Regions from separate parts of the Homo sapiens genome. Here region 2 is reported to be linked to region 1. The links are microRNA targets in miRTarBase. Many come from high-throughput screens and were not tested one by one. Region 1 holds a microRNA gene; the other region holds the end of a gene's coding sequence.
The links. Region 1 holds the annotated microRNA hsa-miR-4687-5p (CAGCCCUCCUCCCGCACCCAAA, at 3,239-3,260, shown strand). A microRNA usually pairs through its seed, bases 2 to 8, with sites in the 3' UTR of a target mRNA and lowers its output. Matches are read on the target gene's strand: a 7mer-m8 pairs with bases 2 to 8, a 7mer-A1 pairs with bases 2 to 7 and ends in A, and an 8mer does both.

Region 1 (7,000 bases):
TTGTGAATAATGCTGTTATGAACATGGGTGTACAATTTTCAAGACCCTGCTTACATTTTCTGGGTGTACACCCACCATTGAAATTGGTGCATCATAGTAACTATTGTTAGTTCTTAGACACCATTTTAGCGTCACAGGAAATTCGACAGCTTCCAAGAGGTTTAAGGTCTTGGTGTAAATTGGTAACAGACCCTGGCTTCCTGCCTCCAAGATCTGTTTGTTGTACCAAATAGATAAGCACCCATAACCCCGAAGAAATCATATGGTGGTGAAAAGAAATGCTGTAGTCGAGTTTGAAGGAAATTGTGTTAAACATGCTTTACTTTGCTCATTTCTTTCATGTTCTCTTAGGCAAATGAGTGCACAGGCAGGAGAGCTGGCTTAGGTAGAAATGATCAACTGTCAGTCTGAGTGATTAATCTGGGCTGCAGACATGTTTTCTGTGGCCTATATAAGGTTTTATCCTTTTAAACGAATTGCTAATATTTTTTTAAAAAGGATATGTCATATGAAAGTCCAGATTTCCATCTTCTCTCTCTCTCTTTTTTTTTTTTTTTAATTGAGACAGGGTCTTGCTCTGTTGCCCAGGCTGGAGTGCAATGGTGTGATCATGGCTCACTGCAGCCTTGAGCTCCTGGATTTAAGCGATCATCCCCCCTCAGCCTGCTGAGTAGCTGGGACCACAGAAGCCAGATACCACTCATGGCTAATTAAAAAAATTTTTTTTGTAGAGATGGGGGTCCCACTGTGTTTCCCAGGCTGGTCTTGAACTCATGGGCTCAAGTAATCCTCCCACTTTGGCCTCCCAGAGTGCTGGGATTAGAGATATGAGTCACTGCACCCAGCCCCATCTTCTCTTAATGACACTCCAGCAATACTAGGCCCATCTTTCTGCCTGCTCTCCACAGTCCCCACCACTCCGTATTACTCCTACCTACTTTTCTTAATTGAATTACCTACCTGCCCATTTTGCCATTTGAATTTAAGACCCCTGGCTCAGAGAATAGGTCTAGGAGAACCTAGGTAGGGTTTCAACTGTTCTGGTCAATTTTCCAATATTCCGGTATTAGTTTTTAGTATCTGAGTGTTCAAGTGAATTAACTCATGTAATCCAGCTTTTACAGAGAACTTACTATGTGCAGGGTCTATGGCTGGGTCCTAGTGTCACAGAGATGAATAAGGCACAGTCTCTGACCTGAAAAGTGGCAATCACTATCTGTTGGGGGAGGGGCAGACAGATGTAATGGTCCAATTTTGGCCACAGACTGATTTTGAAGGGGTGGGCAGAGTAAAAGTTTCTAAGGAGACACATTGAGCTGTATCTGGAAGAGTAAGAGACCAGCTACATGAGGAACTGGGAGCAGGCGAGAGTGTTTCATGCAGAAGCAACAGCAGATACAAAGGCTGTGAGGTGGCTGAGTTTGACGTGGTTAGGAACTTAACGAAGGCTAGTGTGACAGGAGCTTAACAGAGCCGGGAGAGTGGTAGTAGGTTACATTAGCCATGTATTTTTATATCAACGGCCTAACCCTTAAGCCAGGCAGCTGTTGGGCAAATTCGTGTTCCCAGTCTTCAGGGGCCTTGCTCAGAACAGGTAGCTGGTTTAGCACTGTCAGTCAGAGGAGGGACTGGGCCTGATCCTTTCCCCTGCGTCTGGTGCCAAGGACAGGGTAGGGCACAGAGGTTTCAGTCAAGATCTGCTGACAGCACGCTTGAGAAGAGAACAGGAAGTGCAGGCTTTGTTGAAGGAGGCTCAGGCGTGGCTCTGTCTTCTTTGGCGCACTCATTCTCAAGTCGCTGACACCTCCTCCACCAGAGAGGTAGCTGGGAGAATGAGATGCAGGGAGGAAGCATTTACAGGCCCCACCGAAAAACCTTAAAGGGCTGAGAGCTTGAGGGCAGGTAGGAAAAAGGGCTGTGAGAGCTAAGGGAGGGCATCCCACTTAGCTTGGAGGGGAAGGGAGGCGGGGTCGGGAAAGCAGATGGCACCCTTTAGCCCAGACTCAAGGAATGTGTAGGGGAATTTTAGCTAGAGTGGTTTGGACATTTCATTTTGCTTTCTGGCATCATCATTTCCTCAGAAAACACTCGCAGGCCCCAGTGGCCCTCGTGGGCCTCCCCCGGGGCGGGTCTTAGCTTCACTCGGCAACCCTCTGCAAAAGAGCAGGCCCTCCCAGGAGCGCCGAGTCCTGTCTGCAGTTTGCTGATTTTCCCACCAGGGGCCGCTGCGCATGGGCGACGAAGCGCGCGGGTTCCCAAGCCGCAGAGAGGCGGAAGCCGATTGGTTGTCAGGCGAGGCGCGAGGGCGGAGCCTGGGAACTGGCCGGGAGTTGGGGGCTGGGAGCTCGCCCCCGGGCCGAGCCGGGTCAGGCTGTTGTCGCCTCAGGCAGCTCCTGGGAGGCTAACGTCGTGTCCTGGGCCTCTGTTTAGACAGCTCTAGAACTGAGGCGAGTGGAGCAGCACCAAGGCCCGGAGATCGGGGCAGGGCAGCTGCTGTCGCCGCCGCCGCAGGCCTGAGTTACCTGAGTAACTGCGGGTCAGGGACCCGCCCGACGGCCCGCGGTTGGCGCTGGAGACTCTCGGTGGGGAAAGGGAAGCTGGGACTTGATCCTTTGCGCGGGATCCTGGCAAAGACTAGCGCGGGCCGGGGGTCCGGGAGAGCCCGCTAGGGGCGGGGATTCCGGGGAGCCGTCTTCACCGGTTATTCCGGGATCCAGCTGGGCGCTGGGGCTGGCCCGGGCTTCGCTGGGGACCGGGCGGCGCGGGGCGGGCGCGGAGACGCACGCCCCCGCCCGCCCCGGGCCCGCCCCGCGCCGCCCGCCCGCCTGGAAGCCGCTGTCCTGGGCCTGGCCGGTGTGCGTCCGCCTGCTGGACCTGGGCACCGCCAGCCGCCTGGGCACGGGACTGGGCGGGGGCGCTGACCTCGGCCTAGGAGGCCCAGGATCCCGGAGACGCCCGCGCCCTCAGGACCCTGCGGGTCGCACGCCCTCCCCAGCTTCTGCTGCTCGCCGCTCTTCGGCAGGGCGAGGTCAGGTGCCCCCTTCTCGCCTCTCTTCTCTTCTCTTCTCTTCCTCCTCCACTTCTGTGCCCGCGGAGACTCCGGCCGCCCCCTTCCGCAGGGGTGTAGTAATCTGCGGAGCTGACAGCAGCCCCGCAGCCACCCTGCCCGAAGTCTCCGGAAGCGGCACGAGCTCAGGCCGCCGCAGCCCCGGCGGACCCACTGTTGGACCTGAGGAGCCAGCCCTCCTCCCGCACCCAAACTTGGAGCACTTGACCTTTGGCTGTTGGAGGGGGCAGGCTCGCGGGTGGCTGGACAGCTGCGGAGCCGCGAGGGCATCTTGCCTGGAGACCGTCGGCTGCACTCCCGGGCTCCTGGCTTTGCCTCTGGGATCCCGAGGTGTCCACATCAGACGCATGTTGACTGAGACCTAGAGTCATGGATGTATGCGTCCGTCTTGCCCTGTGGCTCCTCTGGGGACTCCTCCTGCACCAGGGCCAGAGCCTCAGCCATAGTCACAGTGAGAAGGCGACAGGAACCAGCTCGGGGGCCAACTCTGAGGAGTCCACTGCAGCAGGTAAGGCCTTGCTGCGGGCTGGACTGGGCTGGAGGCTTTGGCTCAGGACTGAGTGGCCCGAAGTGGGCAAGTTGAAATCTAGGTTTGTACATGTGAGGTTCATGGAGGATTCACACATGGCACTGCCTGTTCCAAGTAGTTCAAGAAGTTCTTTCTGGTCAGTAGTCATGGCAAATGCCTGTATCTTTCCTGAACAACTTTCCTCATCCCCCGCACTCAGGATTTTTTTTGTTGGCAGTAAGAAGAAGCCTTTGGGGCAACTTGACCTTTTAGATCAGCAAGGAAAGACCCCATCTTAGGCCTACTTGTCTGGAAGAATGGCCTGGTGAGATGATAAGTTCATTGCTCCTATTCGGTTTTAGTACTGAGCAGCATGGGGGAGGTTGGGGCCACTTATGTTGGAAAGGGAAAGTTAAGGCTGGGCCACCTCTGTTGCCTGAAAGCCTGGTGTTCAGGTGTGCCTATTCCAACAACCGTGGGAACCCTAGTCCCACCCTTCCCTTAGGTAGTCTTGTCTCTTTGCTGTGCGCATTTGAAATATCCAGGCGGTTTCTTAGATGGAATCCTATTTACAACTAGGGTGTTAAATGGCCTTTTCTTGACATAGACATGATATAATTCCTGGGACCACTTGTTGACTTATTCTGTTTCTTCTGACTGATGAGGGTGGGAATTCCATGCTACAGGTTTTTTTTTTTGTTTTTTTTTTTTTTTCCCTGAGTCTGCTTGCTAGGGAAACCATGCTACTTTTGATCTGTCATGGTTTTTCCTATGCAGTTGTGAAGGCTTATCAGGCAGCAGGAGCCCTGGTATACTTTTGCAGTAGAAAGGAACACTTTTATGTTTTGTTTTGTTTTTTTGAGACAGGGTCTTGATCTGTCGTCCAAGCTGGAATGCAGTAGTGTGATCACAGCTCACTACAGCCTCAAACTCCTGGGTTCAAGTGATCCTCCTGCCTCAGCCTCCCGGTAGCTGGGACTAAACACAAGAGCCACTGGGCCTGGCTAACTTTTTTTTTCTTTCTATTTTTAATTTTTTGAACAGACACTGTCTCTCTGTGTTGTGCAGGGATCCCTCCCAAAGTGCTGGGATTACAGGTGTGAGCCACTGTACCCATCAAGGAACTCTATTAAAATCCAGTCATTTTACATAAGGCTTACGAGATCAGTTCTCTTTTCCCATTTCTCTCACCCTTTGGCTGTGATCTGCCCAAAGCTGTGACCTGCAGTGTGGGGAGAGTTTATAGATGAGTTGTTTCTGAGCATAAGCAAGTTCAAATGAGGGAATGGCTCAGTGGGCACCTGCTGATACAAGTCAGAAAAGGAAATATAGGTCATGGTGGCTGGGGAGTTTCATGGATGGATCCAGAAGCTGGCTTTGGTGGTAGACCCTTTATTGGGCAATACCCTTTTAAGTTCCAGATGTTCCAAGAGGTCTGGTTTCCAAATGAGGCCAGGGTTGCCCATGTGTAAGTAGGATACCTGGCTGTTGCTTTCTAGATAGATCCTTTTTGCCTATTAATCCTGTCTCTCCATAGAGAGTCTCCTTGACCTTTGAGACCTGGCTGAAAGCTTGGTTCTTATTGGGCTATGAAGGGAAAGACTAGTGGGCAAATGTAGATTGAACTGTGAAGTAGACCTAATTATCATCTCTTCCTGTCCCTGTGACATTCCTATTTATAACTGATAATATGTCTTTTTTCACTCCAAAATATGAGTGCCTGACATAAGATGAATATTTTTTGGAGAGTGGGTGTTCTATATTTTAGACATAAGCTAAAGGGATGAAATTTTGAATGTAGACATTGGCTGGCTATTAGGAAGGTTTTTTTTTTTTTGTTTTTTGTTTTTCGCCTGAAGTAAAAGGCATTCTAGCCTTCCTCAGGACCACCCCATGACTTGAGCTTTTGGAGACAATTCTTCACACAACATATATTTCAGAGGCCTGGCTATGCTGATTATACCACTTAGGCCTACTCATGCTCAGTTTAGAAACTGGTTTCTGTTGTCACAATAATAGTGAATTCCAGGGAGGAAAGTCTCAGAGAGACCCTAGGTGCTGTGAATGCCTAAGGTTTGTGGAAACCTGGAGGTTCTAGCACTATTGTTGTGGTAGGTTTTCCCCTTGGGTCTACCTGGGGTTTTGTCTTTGACTCAGTCAGGGACTTGTTTTTGCAAAGAGGTGGTTCATATAGACTGGGATCTGCAAAAGAGTTTGGAGAGAAACTTTCTATGCAACTAGGAACTCTTGCATCCTTTCCAGCCTCTCTGTATCCCCAGAACACAGGAGGAGCTTTACTTGCTCTTAAAACTACTACTTTTAAAAATCAGATTCAACATACCCAGTCAATTTGTGTGTTCTCTGCAGTTTGTATTTTACAATTACATAGCTGTTTTTCCAACAGAGTCTCACAATAGCCCTGTTACAATGCAGGGCAAGTGGTATTGTCCCCATTTTTATGGGTGAAGAAACCTGGTCCTGTGCTTGGTCTTTCTTATAGGCAGGTCTTCTGATGCTTAAGTCTTGGATTTCTTCCATCTTCTCAGGTCCTGCCCTGTTAAAGGAGTGCTAGGCAGGGCTGGAGAATGTTGCTTTCCTTCTGACAATTAGGCAGGCCTTGGTGACTCTGTAGCTGAGAGCCAAGAAAAGGGCTGTACTTTTTTTCTGCTCTGGAGAGTCTTTTGCAGGGGCCCAGAGAATTTGATTTTTTCTCTTTTGGATGTATATACCCATCTGTCTCTTTTTAGTTAGTTAAAATATTTGATCCTAAGATTGATTTAGTTAAAATGCTTATGGCTTTAGCATGCATACAATAAACACTATGAAAGCCTGATCCTGCAGTGAAGGCAGGTGCTCTACAAGGAGGATCTCTCACTGGGCCGTGGAGAGGCCATTCCTGTCACCCTTTGGCTCTTTAATACCTGTACACCCAGCCATGCTAGGTCACTTTCTCAGTAAAGATCTGTGCCTGCCTGTGCTACTCTGGGGCTTGCGTTTCTGAAGCTGGCCTGATACGGATGCTTGGAACCGTCCTTAGACTCTAGAAAACAACAATGGTTTCTGTAGAATGTGCATGAGGGACCTCAGGTGGAGTCTGGAGTTATGGCTGCCAGTGTTGGAGGTATTGAGGGCCTCTAATCAGGAACTGTGGTTTAGTTCAGTGTAGCTAGGACAGGGCCTTGGAGGATAGGCATCTAGGCAGTGTGCAGAGTGCAGGCTGGCTTCTCAATCAACCTCTGATGGAGTGGCAGGCCAGAACCCTGCCTCCCTCCCCCAGCTAGTTGCTGCTGCCTCCAAGGCTATAAATGGCCTGGCCATCTTGGTAGCTATGCTAATTTTAGCTGAGGGTGGCTCCCGGAACTGGGCTGGGGCCAAGAGCAGGTAGGTGGGGCTTGGCTGAAGCTAATACTGGGGCCTGGGGAGAG
Region 2 (15,492 bases), not on the chromosome of region 1:
GTCAGCCTTGACCATTCAGAAAAGGCCTGACACTGGTGTGTTCGAACGAAAGAGGACAGGTGATGGGAGAGTGGGAGAAAGAGCCTGGGACTGGGGGATTGGCAGACTGGGGGCCTAGGTTCAAGGCCGAGGTCTGCCTTGATGCATTGTTTGGCTTTAGGAGGCTTCTTGCCTTTGGGAAACTAGGGAAGGCTGAACTTGGAGACTCTTGAGCCCACTCCATTCCTCCCAAGTCTGAGGGTCTTAAGCCTGTAATGAGCCAAATATGTCCCCTCCTTGAGATGGGGAAGGGGAATGGGAGTGGGGTGAAGTGAGCCAGACCTGTGTGAGGGCCAGGGTACCACCCTCCCGCTCACCCCCAATTCAGGCCTCATACACGCCTCAGTTTACCAGGTGTTCCAGATCCATCCAAGTACCCTGTGACCATTCCCCATACCACCTTAGCTAAGTCCTTCCAGGAAGAGGAGCCCACCACACCACACCCATTAATCCTCCTCTGGAAGGAGAGAAAAATAGGTGTTGGAGATGGTAACTTGCTGAGCGGGACTGAAGCCAGGTGTGTGTGACTCCCAATATGCCACGACTGCTTTTTAAAAAATATTTTGGCCGGGTGTGGTGGCTCATGTCTGTAATCCCAACACTTTGAGGAGGCAGATGGATCACCTGGGGTCAGGAGTTCGAGACCAGCCTGACCAACATGGTGAAACCCCGTCTCTACTAAATACAAAAAAAAATTAGCTGGGCCTGTTGGTGGGCACCTGTAATCCCAGCTATTTGGGAGGCTGAGGCAGGAGAATCGCTTGAACCCAGGAGGTGGAGGTTGCAGTGAGCTGAGATTGCGCTGTTGCACTCCAGCCTGGGAGACCGAGTGAGACTCTGTCTCAAAAAAAAAAATTATTTCAATCATTAGGACAATCCCAAGTATGTCTCATTCCCAATTGACAGGGGAATGGGCCATAAACCTGGGTGTCATCCTCGGGTGGAGCACCTACAGTAGGAAACAGGCCCTAGGAAGTGGAGTGAAATCCAGAGCTGTCACAGGGCACTCTACTGTGCCATGGGCCTCTTCCTCTCTTTGGAACTCGGTTTTCTCATCTATGGAATAGCAGTGTTTGCTCCAGAACCGCTAATATCCAGGTCGGGACTTTGTGTTGCTGCGAGCCCAGGTCCCCACCCTGAAGTCTAGGACAGACCCATGAGCTTGGGTGGGAGAGAAGAGCAATGCAGACGTGACTGTCCTGCCAGGCGGGGGCGCCGCCGCCAGACGCACGAAAACAACCAAATAAATCAGGCCCAGGAACTCCTAATCCTTCCCGGCTGTGGCTGCTACCGCTTGCCCCGCCGGCACCGCCCTGCCAAGGGCGCAGAGTCGGGCCAGCAGAGCCGGAGTGATGCCGGGCCATCGAGGCGTCCTCAGCCCCCGAGGTGGGAGGTGGTGGGGGGGCGGGGAGGAGAAGAAGAAGGCTCTCCCGACACGGTGACTCAGGCCTCCTTGACCCGCTCCTGGGTGGGCACGTTCCTGCGCCCCGGTCTATTTTTAGAGCCGGCTCTGGGCCTGAGCGCAGACTGAAGGGAAGGGGGGCCTCGTGGGGGGCGCAGGCGCCTGACCAGCTCCTCCAGCTCGGGGCTCAAGCCCCAGGCCCTCCAGCTGTCTACTTGGAAAAGGGTGGAAGCACATGGAGGGTGGGTGTCAGGGTGTGCGGCGCAGGCCCAGAGAATGCGCCCCCCTTCCCCACAAGGCCTGGCAGTTCCAGAGAACTGGGCGCGGCCTCCCAAATAACGACCTCTGTTAAGTGGGACCAGGAGCCTCCCGATGGTCGCTGTGTCTGCCCATTGGACCAGGGGCCAGGGCGGGCGGGGCTTTGGGCGACAGAACTGGCTAGGGTGGGAGAGGAGAGGAAGCTGCCAGGTTCTGGGGATCCCGACCCCACCCCGCCGACAGCCACGCCTCCAGCCCACTCTGGCCACGCCACTGGTCTGCCTTTGGACCACACTCATGGCCGGGTGCCTTCCCTGACTCCGCCCTAGGCCCTGCCTCCTATCTGGCTCCGCCCAGCCCTGGCCAACCTTAGAACCTGTCCCAAGGTCCAGAGAGGCCTAGATGAGGGGTAGCCTGCCTCTGAGAGGCATGGAGCCCTCCTCCCGCGTGGGGTCAGGGAATAGAAGGGCGTCGAGGGTGGCGGGTGAGGGAACGTTCCTGGCGCCGCGAACGGGAAGCCTCCAGGCTGCAGGACGTAGCTGCGGGGACCCGGCAGTCTGCGAGGCTGGAGTGGCCGAGGCCGCCCCGAGCATAGAAACAGCCCTGTATACGTGGGCACAGAAAGGCCCAGGGAGGCGCCTGGGCAGAAGTGTCTAGGACGATGCCTCTGCCACGGAGCCCTGGAGTGGGGGCAGCTGATGGCTCAAGACACATGAGCTCTGGTGGCGAGTACAGGGACGCGGGGTTTGGGGAGGCCCAAGTCAAGGTCCATCCTTCTGGGATGAGGGGCGGAGGATGGGAGGCGGAGCCCGGTCTCCAGGGCACCAGCCCTCCACCTAGCGGGAAGCTTGGGAATCGCGGAGTGCAGAGGTGGGGTGCGGAAAGGGTTCCACCGCGCCTGGGCTCCTTTTTCTCCTTGGAGGTCCCACTGGCGCCTACCCACCACCATCCTGCCCAGTCCGCTCCATCTCGGGGATTCGCCCCAGATAGAAAGGGGAGTCATTCTAACATCTATCTTCCCTTCTTCCCCCCATCTCCAGGTCCTATCCCCTTCCCTTCTTCCTTGCAGTTATCCCTGGGAGCTGCCTCTGCCGGTTCCAGTCCCTGGAACACCTGACAACTGCTCTTCCTGCCACCAGTTTTACCCTCTCCCCCATCCATTTTTCATAGCCATGTGGTGTTTCTTTTTTTCTTTTCTTTTTTTTTTGAGGCAGAGTCTTGCTCTGTGGCCCAGGCAGGAGTGCTGTGGCGCGATCTCGGCTCACTGCAAGCTCCGCCTCCCGGGCTCACGCCATTCTCCTGCCTCAGCCTTCCGAGTAGCTGGGACTACAGGCGCCCGCCACCACACCCGGCTAATTTTTTGTACATTTAGTAGAGACGGGGTTTCACCGTGTTAGCCAGGATGGTCTCAATCTCCTGACCTCATGATCCACCCGCCTCGGCCTCCCAAAGTGCTGGGATTACAGGCGTGAGCCACTGCGCCCAGCCGCCATGCGGTGTTTCTAAACAGGAATCTGGTTGTGTCACTTTCTTGATTAGAATCATTCAATAGCATCTTATGGTCCAAATAGACTCCAAACCTTGACTTGGGACTTGAGCTCTTCACCATCCAGCTCCACCTCCCTCAGCCCCAGTCCCTCTCTGGGGCTTTCTGTGTTCCACCCATACAGGAGAACTGTCAGCTCCTCATCCCTTTTCCAGGAACGCCCTCCCTGGCCTCATCCTTGCTGTCTTCAGGGCTTAGTCTGGCAGAGACTCCACTTCTTGGGAGGCCTTTCCTGAACCCCAGGTCTTAGTTAGGTGCCCCTTGTCTGACCTCCCACCACCCCCAGTATGTGCCTGCCTCTCTCAGAGCAGTCACTGCCTGGGTCTCTAATGACTTATTCACTCCCGTGGCAGGACAATTGATTGAGATATTAATTGCTTTGTTCTCCTGTAGTTTCCCCTCCCACTTGCAAGCTGGTAGCCAAGCCCTTTGATTTTTCTAGCCTCAGGGAACTGTGCAGGGCCAAACGCAAAAAGCTGCTTGAAGTCTGATGGCTTGTCCTGAGTTTGGAAAGAGCTAAACTTCTGGAAGCAGGCGTGCCATGTGTTCCCAAGGGATGGGGAGAAGAGGACAGAGAATTGAGAGGCAGAAGCTAGCTGCAGAGGGTGCAGAAGCTGGGGGTCCTTTGGGTGGTAGGGACCTGTGTCTAGCTCCCTTGACAGCTGATAGCTCCCTTGACAGGTGACAGGAGCTGTGGGGATGTGTGGTAACGCACCTGGGGTGGCTGGAGTGCAAACACTTGGGAACCAGCTTCAGTGCTCCAAAGTAGCAGGGGAACAGCTTAGTCACTGAGCCTCAAGGGACCATATGGACTACTAGGACAATGGACATCTCTGTGTGACCAATGTAGACTGAAGACAGGAGGCACCTCTTCTGTGCCCATGTGCAGGGAGGGCCAGCAGCTCCTTGCACTCGCCAGTGGGAAAGGTGGGAGGGAGCCTTCAGTGATGGTTGAGATTAAATTTTTTGCCAACTCATAGGAAAGCGTTTAGAGTGAGTCAGACTGGAGTTGGTTTAAAGTGAATACAGAAACAGGGTATTTCTTGTTTGTGTGCCAAGCTTCCTCCCTACTACACCTGTCTGTGTGTCTCTTAATACGCTGCAGAGCTGAGACTGTATGTGCCTCATTCAGAATTGTATCCTCAGCACCCAGCGTGGTACCTGGCATATATTGACTGCTCAAAATGTATCGGTTGAATTCGCTTTTCCTCCGTAGCTACAGAAATCCTTCTAAAACCCAAGTCTGCTTCCGTGGTTCCCCTCTGGCCCTCAGAATAAAATCCAAACCCCGATGATATCCCACAAAGCCACTGTGATCTCACCGCCCCGTATCCGCAGCCCATCCTCTCCAGCTGAACTGCACTATTTGCAATTCCCCAAACTTGCCAAGTTGTTTCATGCCTCGTGCCTTTGCTTATGAGGCACCCTCTGCCTGGAGTGCCCTTTCCCCTTTCTCTGCCTGCTGAGCTTTCAATTAGTCTTCAGAGCTCAGTGCAAGTGTTTCCTTGTCTTCCCTGACACCCTCTTCTGAAGGCAGAGGAAACTTCTCCTGCTCTGCAGCCTAATGCTCAGGCCCATGTCTGTCTCCTTCTTCCCCAAGCCTGGTTTCCTGGACTGTGGGCTTCTCTAGTAGAGTGAGTTCCCCATGCCCAACATGGTGCCAGGTACACCACAGGCTCTCAATAAATGCTCACTGTTCACTGGGCTTTAGCCTTGATCCTCCAAGGACTCATGGTGTGACCTCGAGCAACCTCTCCCTTCTGAGCCTCAGATTTCCTTTCTGCACAACGGGAGGAGTGGAACTGAATGTTCTCTAAGGGCCCTTTCTTCCCTCAGTTGAGCCTGGAAATGAGAGCATGTAAAACACAACTCACCTGTGTGCACGGCAGGCCAGCTAAGGGCAGAACATGCTCAGACACAGAGCTGCCCATAGCATCCATGCATGGCCACCTGGGAGCAAGCCCTTGCCCAGACAGCTGCACGTGACAATGTCACACAAAAGTGCATGTGGCCCTCTGGACGTGGATGTGCTGTCCTCCCAACCCCCATCCCCCATCAACCACTGGCCCTGACAGTGAAAAATTCAGCAGCAGTCAGGGATGCCAGTCTGGCAGTGAGTTAATATTCAAGGAAGGAGCCTTCTGCAATATGCATGCCCTGAGGCTGGTGTCCTATGGGGCTCTCCCCTTCCCAGGCCTGCACAGGCAAAGCCCTCCCCACCCCACCACAGGCACAGACACAGACAGTCTGCCTGCGGCAGGGCACTGAGAACTAGACCTTCAGCTCTAATTGCTTCCTGGACAGCCCCCTCCCAATGTCTCCTCATTCATTCATTCAGCAATATCTATGCAGTTCCTATCCTGTCCCAGCAACAGTATGAATGTATGACCCTGTTCTGCCCTCAGGGGCTCATAGTCCAGTGGGGGAGACAGACAATAAATAGGAAACAAGTGATATAAACTCAGATCAGGAGAAATGATACTGTGGAAAGGATTAGGTGATGTGATTTTTAAAAAATGACTTGGTGGGAGAAAGGGGTAGTCAAGGAAGGCATTTCTGAGGAGGTGGCATCTCATCAAAAGACAAGAGCCAGCACAGCAGACAGCCAGGGAAGAGACTTTCAAATTGAGGGCACAGCAAACACAAAGGCCCTGGGAAGGGAGAATCCATGAAATGTGTTTGAGGAGCAGAGAGGAGGCCATGGAGCTGCTCAGACAGTGACAGCAAGTGGCAGGACATTTGGACAGAGCAATGGGCAGGGACCAGAGCATGCCGAGCCTCCTGTGCCACAGTGAGAGCCTTTGTTTTAGTCAAAGAGCAATGGGAAGCCCCTGGAAACAGTATCCATCCCTTCCCCCAGCTCCTCCATCTTGGGAGCCTTCTTAGAGACTATGCCTTCCTCATCTTTACGTTGTCAGTGCCCATCCCAAGGCCCAGCATGGGGTTGACATCAGACACCATTTACTGATAAATAAATGACCAATCAAGTTCTCCTGGCTCAAGGCTTGATTCAATGGCTCAGAGTAGGTCAACAGGGCCAGATTAAGACATTTACATGCCATCCATTGGGAAGAGTCTGGCACTCCCATACATCATTCACAATAGAAATAATACTAATCCATGAAGCATACTTCTTTATGCACATGCTGGAATGAAAACCACTTCCTTTTGGATTTTCAATTGCAAAATTCTGGATTAGTTCATGGAAGCAGAACTTCTTCTTCTTCTTTTTTTTTTTTTTTTTTGGTTTGTTTTTTTGAGATGGAGTTTTGCTCTTATTGCCCAGGCTAGAGTGCAATGACGTGATCTCCGCCTCCTGGGTTCAAGCGATTCTTCTGCCTCAGCCTCCCAAGTAGCTGGGATTACAGGCACCCGCCACCACACCCAGCTAATTTTTGTATTTTTAGTAGAGACGGGGTTTCACCATATTGGCCAGGCTGGTCTCAAACTCCTGACCTCAGGTGATCCGACCGCCTCGGCCTCCCAACATGCTGGGATTACAGGCATGAGCCACCGCACCTGGCCTCAGAATTTCTTTCTGCTTATCTGTGTGTGCACGTGTTGTTACTGTCTTGCTGGCATCCTAAACTGAACTCAGTCCGCCCATTGATCACCCAGTGCTAGATGGCAGGGCTTGCCCAACCATCCCCTCAATGACATGGTCTTGGCTTCTGCACTCTGGATAACGAGGAGGACCAAGGGTGCCGTTGTGGCCCAGGCCTAATTGACAGCAAGCAGCCCTACAGGTAGGAAGAAGGCAGTAGCACTGTCAGCAGGTTTTGGGAGCTGCTCATTGTGAGAACTCTGGGAAATAACCCTCCTTGGACCATCAAGCTTGCTCCTGCCCATCCCTGACCCTCTAAAAACAGTACCAAGTGACCAAGGTCCAAGAGGTCTCTCAGAGGAGGTATCTAAGGCTCAGAGAGGTTACTTAACTTGTCCAAGGTCACTCAGCAAGTTGGAGATGGAGTTGCAGTTGGGACCCAAGCCTGGCCCCTGAAGCAGACTGGAGGCATTCCCTCCCTGGGTGAGCCGGGCTGGGGAAGAATGCTGAGGGGCCCCTATCTGGATCCACAGAACTGATGAGAACAAACTGGAAGTTGGACCCAGCCAAGCCTTTAAATGGGGTCTGCCCTTACCCCAGCCCCTCTTTCGCTACCCAGCTGAGCCCTAAACCTCTAAGCTCAATGCTCCCTCAGCCTCCTCTCTGGGTCCTAGAGATGGACCACATCTCAGGTCCCCCATGTGACTTCCACAGCATCACACAGACACAGAACTGGGCACCCAGGAAGGATCCAGAAGCCGAGTCTCAAATTTGCTCTCACTTCTCTCCCAGTGGCCTATGTCACAGGTGCTAGCCCTCCTTCACTCAGTCAACCCCCAACCACACCTGCTCTATGTATGGCCCCAGAAGGGAATTAGACTCAATGTGGGGGCCTGGGAGAAAAGTTGACCTCCCCTCCCCACTTCACTGACCTCCCCAGGGATGGCACTTAGGAAACTCAGACAAAGCAGCTCAGTGATTCTCAGGGGATTGGAAGCTGGGTGGTTGAGGGGAGCACCTCCACATGCAGGCCAGTTTTCCCAGGCCAAGTCCAGGCTGAGCTCTGCCTCTACTAGGCTGCACCCCACCCCACCCCCAGTGAGTGGGAAGTGACAAATGAGCCTGAGGAAGGAGGAGGGAGCTGGCGATCGATGGCATTAACATGGTGCCCAAATTAAATATTGACTTTCTTGGTTGACTCTAGGGACACTTGGATTGATGGCTGAGGCTTTGCCATGCCACCACAGGGGATAGGCACATAACAGCCTGGAGCAGGTCCATAGGGAAGCTGAGGCCTGGAGAGGAGGGGCTCACCTTTGCTTCCACCTGCTCAGGAGGAGTAGAAGTGAGGGCTTCAGGGAGCCCGGAGCACCGTGCCTGCTTCTCCACCTTCCCCATGGAGTCCAGAGTCCCATCCGTCCCGAAGGTCTTGGAGTCCAGGCCTTGTTGAGTGTCCCCCCAACCCCATTCCCACCTCCAGGAACTGTGGCTAACCTGAAGTGCAACAAATGAGCAGAATCAATCTCTGTGATGATAACCATTACTGGGTCTCAGGACCCGGCCTCCCAAGGCGGTAGGGCTGGTTATTTCTGATCATTATGTAGGATCTTGGAGAGGAGGTAGGGACAGCCTCTCTGTTCATGGAAATCTCCCATCATCCTCTCCAGCTAACTCACCTTCAGAGACTACAGTAAGCCCTGAGCTTTCTCTCCCTCTTTTCTCTTTTTTTTCACCTGTCCTGAACAAAGGGAGTCTCCCTCTTTTCAAAGCTCCACTTTAAGAACTGTCTCTAGTCCCTTGATTTATTCACCTCCCACCCTACTCTACAACCCACCTCAGTGCTGGTTCCTCCCATAGTAATGACTCCAGCCCAGCCCCTCATTCTGAGTTCCAGCCCTGTGTGTTCAACTACCTACTTTCCACTTGACATCTCCCCTTGACCATCTCAAAGTTGACATGCCTGCTATGGTTTGAATGTGTCCCCCAAAAAGCATGTGTTGGAAACTTAATCCCCAGTGCAACAGTGTTGGGAGATGGGGTCAATGGGGGGTGTGTGTTTAGATCATGAGGGCACCGCCCTCATGAATGGATTAACACTGATTATAAAAGAGCTTGAGTCTTTGAATTCAATCTCTTGCTCTCTCTCTCACCCTTCTGCCTTCTGCCATAAGATGATGCAGCAAAAAAGACCTTGCCAGATGACAGCCCCACAACCTTGGACTTCCCAGCCTCCAGAACTGCAATGAATGAATCTCTGTTCTTTATAAATGACCCAGTCTCAGGTATTGTTATAGCAGCACAAAATGGACTAAGACAATGCCCAAGGCCAAATTAATGACTGTCTCCCCCAAAGCTGGTCCTCTTCCTGTACCTCTATGCCAATGACACGGTCATCCATCCAGGTGTGTAAGACAGAAGCCCAGGTGTCATCCTTGGCTCCTCTCTGATACCCAATCCACACCAGGAGCTGAGTGCTGACAATTCTACCCACTACATATATAGAAACTCCATTCCTCCTCCATAGCACCCTCTAAAGTCTCCTTCATGCAGATCATCTCCTTGCTGGTCTCTCTCTCCACCCTCACTCTTCAGTGTCCCTGCCCCCACCAATCCATTTTCCATCCACTCAAGAGAAATCGTGTTGATATAGAAATCTGATCATGCCAGTACTCTGCTCAACACTCTTCCTTAGCTTCCCACTCTCCTTAAAGGCCAAAACCCTCAGTGGAGTCTCCTCTGCCTTAGACACTTAGCATGTGTTTTGAGGGCCTGAGAGGGTGGAAGTCTTCCCAGAGTCAGTGGCCTTGGAGGAGTGGAGGGAGGAATATGATGGGTACTGGGGACTGGATTAGAAAAGCCCCAACTGGGGGACCCCATGAGGTGCCAGGGTGGGCATGAAGAAGCCTGAAGGGAAATGAGTCCTGAGAAGCAGAAGTCAGCAGCATCCCGCACCCAGGTCCTCCCTCAGGCCACCTAATTTCCTTTTAATTGGTGCCTAATGGAAGTGATTTAAGCCCAATTAAGTTTTAACGTGTCTGTTCCAGTCTAGCCTCAACTTGCTTCCCTTCTCCCAGAGTCTAGGGCTGCAGGGGTAAGGGTAAGGGTGAGGGTAAGGGTGACCCCTTCCCCTAGTGCTGCTGAGGGAGGCCTGATACCAGTCCACAGGTCTCCTCAGGACCTTCCCCTACTTCCCCAACACCTCCTCCCTACCCACCAGTATCCCCAGGATATGTGGAGCCCAGGAACCCTGGCTTTGGACCTCCCTTGTGCGGGCACTGTGCTGGCAACTTTCCCTCCATCACCTCCTCAAGCCCTCTCCATGGCCCCATGAGGCAGGCTGTGCGGAAGTACCTCCTTTTCACAGAGGGCACTGAGTTCACTTGCTCAAGGTCACTGCCTTTGTTCTGCCTAGAGCTGTGCTGTCCGACATGGTAGCCTCACGGGAGTACTGAGCAGTCAGAAGGTGGTGAGACTGACTTGAGATGCACTGTAGCACTGTATGTATAAAACACACACGAGATTTCCAAGACTCCGTATAAAAAAAGAATGTTAAATATCTCAGTCATTTTTTATATTGATTATATGTTGAAATGATCGTTTTTTAATATATTGAATGAGATATATTATTAAAATGAATTTCACCTTTTCAAACTTTTAAAGAATGGTTACTAGAAAATTCTAAATTACATATGTCGTTTACATTGTATTTTTATTAGACATCTCCCAGGGTCTGTTCTCATGAAGGTAGGGATGGTCTGCTCATCCTTGACCCTGCCAGTCTGGAAAGCAAGAAAAGGCTGCAGCTGAGCTTGTGCGGGCGGGCCTCTCAGTCTTGTCTCCTCATCCTTTGGGTGAAGACAAGTCCCTTTCAGCACCCTGGACAGCAGCCAGGGCTGGCTTCCCACTTGGGGTTGAGGAAGGAATAACTGTGGGAGGAGTAGATTAACACCTATAAAATGCTTCCCATGAATCATCTTAAGTCATGCTCCGGATATCCAGTGAGGAAGACTGGGTAGGAGTTGTCATTATCCCAATTTTGCAGATGAGGAAATCAATGTTCAGGGAGATTTGTGTATTCCACCCTTCACCCGCTAAAGATTCACTGATGCCTGCTTCATGTGGGCCTCTGAGTGCACAAACCACAGCAAGGCCAACACAGATGACAGCAGTTCTGTGTGATCAGTGCAGTAGTGACAGTGCATGCCAAGGCCTGTGGGGGCCCAGCGAGTGCTGACTGCTGGGCCAGGGAGTTCAGGGACAGCATCACACAGGGGGCTACTTGGGCTGGGTCTGGAAGGCTGAAGGAGAGTTTCCCCTCTGTGAGGAGGAGGGAGTTTCAGGCAGAAGGAGTGGTGCATGCACAGGCATGGAGGTCAGAGAGATGGGCCAGAGGAGGGAGGCAAGGGCCACATCACCAAGGGCCTTGAACTCTAGGCTAATTCCAGGATCCACAGAAGGCATCTGAGCAGTGGCCTGGCCAGATCTGCATTTTGGAAAGATCACTTGGGCCATGTGGATGAAGGGCTGGAGACTGGAGGCAGAGAAAATGAGGGCAATGATGTGAGAAATTTGAGTCCAGGAAAGAAATGACAGGTTGTTAGATATTAGCTCAAATGGAAGGGAGATCGAGCCAACTCATTTTACAGATAGGGAAACCCATGTCAGACAGGGTCCAGTGGCCTGTCCAAGGTCACGCAGCAAGTCAGTGCCTGGGGGAGCAGGGACTGAGGGCAAGGGAGGGACAAAGCCCCCACCCCAGGAAAGCTAAGTGGCTGGTCTCAAAGCCAGCAGAGGCCTCTGCAGGTAGCTGTGGTTTGTGTTTGAGCAGAATCAACAAGGTAAATACTAAACTTCCTCTTCAACCAGATGCAAAGCAAGAATGGACAGGAGGGCAGGGACGTGCACATCACACCTCAGCCCCAGAGGGCCCCAGAGGTGGTGACCAGCGGAGCCTAAGACCAGGAAGGAGGGAGGTGCGAGCACAGGACAAGGCATTAAGAGGGCCTTTAGGTGATGGTCAGAGGAAGGAATGTGGAGTAGGATCTGCTGGTACATGGTCGGGCTTTGTTTGTGCAAACCCCCTTTTAGGAACAGGCCCCCCTTTCTCAGAGACCTGCTCCCTCTCCTCCCTCTCCCTCTCCCCCATGGTTCCTGATGGGACTGCCAATCACAGTGCCCCAGCCTCCTTCCTGGGGCCAGCCAGAGCTCTTCCTTCCTTGGGGGTTTTCTAATTGGAATTCAAGAGAGAAAGTTTCTTCCCCTCTAGGGGCAATGCTGAGTGATCGAGCTGGGAGGAGGAAGCCTGGCAGGCCCAGGGGGAAGAGGCCTTAAAGAATGAAGCCGACACACATTCGAGAGAATGCCAGGAGAGGATGAAACATGCGGTGGCACTCCTGATCCCGGGTCCCATCACGAAGGCCAGCCGCACTTGCCCACTGCTGTCCTTGCGGCAGCGCGCTCCTGGGTGAACAAAGCTCCCAGGTGCCTAAGCTGGCTGGTATCGGATTCTGCCACTCCCAGCCACAAGTCCCAGTCACAAGCTGAGCTGTGGGAGCTTGGGAAAGTCATGTCCCCTCTCCAAGCCTCGATTTACTCATCTCCAAAATGGGGCAGTCACAATACCTACCTTGAAGAATCAAATGAGGTAGTGCTTGAGTGAACTCTGTGTACACTTAAGTGCTGGGGCTGCCCGAAGGGAGGGAGGCGGAGGAGTGAGTCGCAGGAGCTCCAAGGGTCTAGAAGCACAGTCCTGAGTGGACTCTGCCCGCACGGCTCCTCTGACCAGGTCTCACAGCAGGCAGGATTGGAATGAGACCAGAGCAAGCCTGTGCCATCAAGGCCTGCAAAACTCTGAAGAGGCCTCCGCCCCTCCTCCAGCACCCCTGGGCAGGCCATTATCTGTGATACCCCCTACCCCAGCAGCCAGTCACTTCTGTCACTCCCACCCAGGCTGCTGCAGCACCTAACCCTCCCTCAGCTCTCCAGGGACCTGTCTGTGTCTCCGAGTCCCTGGGAAGGGGCCCAGAGGTGCCCATGTTGCTAAATGACCAGGCAAGAAGGACCTGTGACCCTGCTAACCGTGCCTCTGCTCCAGCTGCTGCCTGACTCCAGAATATGTTTCCAGATGTAATCCTGTGCCCCCTCTTTCTGGGGGCCTGAAAACTGAGCAAGGATCCGCTCACTCAGGCATGTAATGAATGCAACTCAGTACAAGCCTCCAGCCCCTGGCACCAAGCCAGCCTGGCTCCCACACCCCACCCCAGCCCTGGCCCGGTCCAACACCTGCATCTCCACCACAACCCAGCATCTGCGGCTCCCCTGCAGCCATGGTCAAGTTCCAGGAAGCTGAGCTGAAGCCCCACCTCCATCAAGCGTGGGTTTGAAGTCCCAGCTCTGCCTCTGACTGTGGCCTTGAGCCGGGCACTGCCCATCTCTGGCCTCATTTTCCTATCCACAAAATGGGCAACCTAAAACCTTCCAACAGGGTTGTTGTGAGGGGCCAGGGGATATGTGTGTGAAGCTCCTAGCTTAGAGCACTGCATGAGACTGGTGCCACATGGTCACAGCTAACCCTTCAAGAGCTTATCCTGTCCCAGGTATTTGCTGAACACTTTACAAATAGGAATTTGTTTCATCCCTGTAACAACCCTGTGAGGTGGGCACTGTTACCATCCCCATTTCACAGATGTGAAACCAAGGTCACTAAGCTCTGTCTTGGCTCTAGCCCAGGAAGTCTGGCCTCTGTGCCCCAGTGAATGGCAGCCACGACCATCACAGCCACCAGGAAAAGCCAGCCATAAGAGGTCCCCTCCCACACTCCCAATCTGCTTCCCACAGCCCAGATCGGGGAAAGGATGAATCACCCAGAGAGTCAGGGACAAAGATGGGGTCAGAGCCTAGGCCGCCCCCTCCCAGGCAGGGCTGGACTGACCCCATCACATCATCTGATGAGATCAAGTGAGTTCAACCCAGGAGACAGAAACAAAGTCGGGGTCCCAGAGCTGGGCCTTTACCTGAGGGAAGCAAACAGCTCAGCAGCAAAATCCACAGAGTGAAGTTTATTCCCAACAAAGTTCCCCTCCCCCCTCCCCAGCCCGGGACAGGGACGGACAGGCTGGGCTGAAGATGGGGTTCCAGTGGCTGAGGGGCCTCTGAGAAACAAGGAAGGGCCCTGGGACCCCAGGCCAAGCCATGTCCGGCTCCCCCAGCCTGGCTGAGTCCACGGCGCCTCCCTGCCCAGCCCTCGGGAGAGGGGAGAGGGCGCTGGCTCCTGGGTAGTTCCAAAGTGGAGTGTGAAAATAGAGAGATATATATATTTATATGCAGTGGGCAGTCCAGCGTGGCACTCACACCTCTGTCTGGAAGTCACCATCCGGTGGTTCTGTGGGCTCCCAGGCTGCTGCCCGGTGCAGAGTCAGCCGTTCTCGGGGCTTGGGGGGCAGCGAGCCCAGTGTCATAGATTTGAAGGTGCTCCAGCTCTGATGGCGCCGATGTTGGGACAAGCTGGGGCGCTCCCCAGGGCTGGGCTTATCCTGTGGAGGGAGCGGGAGGGGCCGTGGAGATGGGCCAATATCCTTACCCATTGTACAGACGATCAAACTGAGGAGTCCCAGAGAGGGCTGGTAATGCCCAAAGTTATGGAGCAATCAGGTGTCAAGCAGAATTCAAATACAGACCTGCCTGGTTCCAGGGTGGGGCTCCTGACCCCTGTTCTCAGTGGCCCCCAGGACATGTCTCCTGCTGACCACTCTCCCTCCCAATCCTGGAGGACCTCCACCCCTGTTCGCCATCTGCAGCACCTTCCCCACCCCCAGGCGGCCCCAGACTGTTGCCCATGCCGTGGGGGAGGCCCTTGGTGAGACAGGCTGGGGTTGCCTGGGAGGGGCAGGAGGGCAGGGAGGGCACGGGTCCCTCAGGCCCACCTCACCCCACCCAGCCCGGGGGGACTCACGGTGCACACGCTCCGCTCGGCTGCCCCACCCGAGGACACACTCCACCGCTTCTCCCTCTGCAACGGGGGCCACCGGTCAGGCTCCAACCCCAGGGGCCACTGCACCAGGTCAGGCCCTGAGCTTCAGGGCAGGGGCAGCCACGGGAGGAGCCCTCACCTTGGCCGTGGACTGGCTGCGGTAGCGGTCGAAAGTGTGGAACTTCTGGTTGAGCTCGTGGTAGAGTTCTGAATGCCGTTTCCGGGTGTGCATCACCTTCTAGGGGCCACAGGGCATCAGAGGGTCGCTCCCCGGGGCAGCACCATGATCCCCCCTACCCAGGGCACTCAGCACCCCAAGCCCCCCACATCCCTCCCTGCTGCCAGCCCCTCTGGGACAAGACCTAGTTCTCTCTTCACGTTGGTGCTATGGGCTTGGGCAGGGAGGGAATCATGGGAAGATCCCACGGAACCCCCGGGCTTGGGCTCCTGGGGTCAGGCTCTGCAACAGAGCTTGGACTACTTTTAGGAGTGAGCCCTCCAGGGACAGACACCACAGCCAGATGTCCCACCGCCCAGCACACACATGGCCCTTACCTCAAAGTCCAGGTCTGAATACCGTAATTTCTTTCGCTGGGAAGGAGCAACAAGGAGGCAATGGAGGAGAAGAAAGCTTTTTACCACCGGCAGGGGCTTTAGAGACAGGAAGCCTGGCATCCCAGGGGTCTGCCCGCTGCACCTTCCCCCCAACCCAGGCCCAGAAGTTGCGGACCTTC

Region 2: the mRNA of ADGRB2 is a reported target of hsa-miR-4687-5p. Seed matches in the 3' UTR shown: 7mer-m8 at 14,028-14,034.

Annotation. Positions count from the first base shown.
Region 1 is chr11:3,852,835-3,859,834 of GRCh38, forward strand. It overlaps MIR4687 (microRNA 4687), which reads left to right and starts at 3,228; the gene lies at 3,228-3,307. STIM1 (stromal interaction molecule 1) reads left to right here and starts at 2,830. Exons shown (of 13, transcript NM_001382567.1): 1 at 2,830-3,575. The coding sequence starts at 3,437. STIM1-AS1 (STIM1 antisense RNA 1) reads right to left here and starts at 2,744. Exons shown (of 2, transcript NR_183662.1): 1 at 2,523-2,744; 2 at 1,489-1,824. RefSeq lists enhancers at 1,806-1,875, 2,085-3,030, 3,246-3,455, 3,606-3,685, 3,696-3,745 and 2 more and silencers at 2,216-2,265, 2,746-2,805, 2,866-3,025, 6,862-7,000.
Region 2 is chr1:31,713,285-31,728,776 of GRCh38, forward strand. ADGRB2 (adhesion G protein-coupled receptor B2) reads right to left here. Exons shown (of 33, transcript NM_001364857.2): 30 at 15,314-15,349; 31 at 14,898-14,996; 32 at 14,741-14,797; 33 at 13,833-14,321. The coding sequence ends at 14,136. Among named protein-coding and RNA genes, the nearest start is that of COL16A1, 17 kb to the left of the region's middle. RefSeq lists enhancers at 1,884-2,178, 2,038-2,635, 2,458-2,567, 2,636-3,231, 10,524-11,025 and a silencer at 10,571-10,771.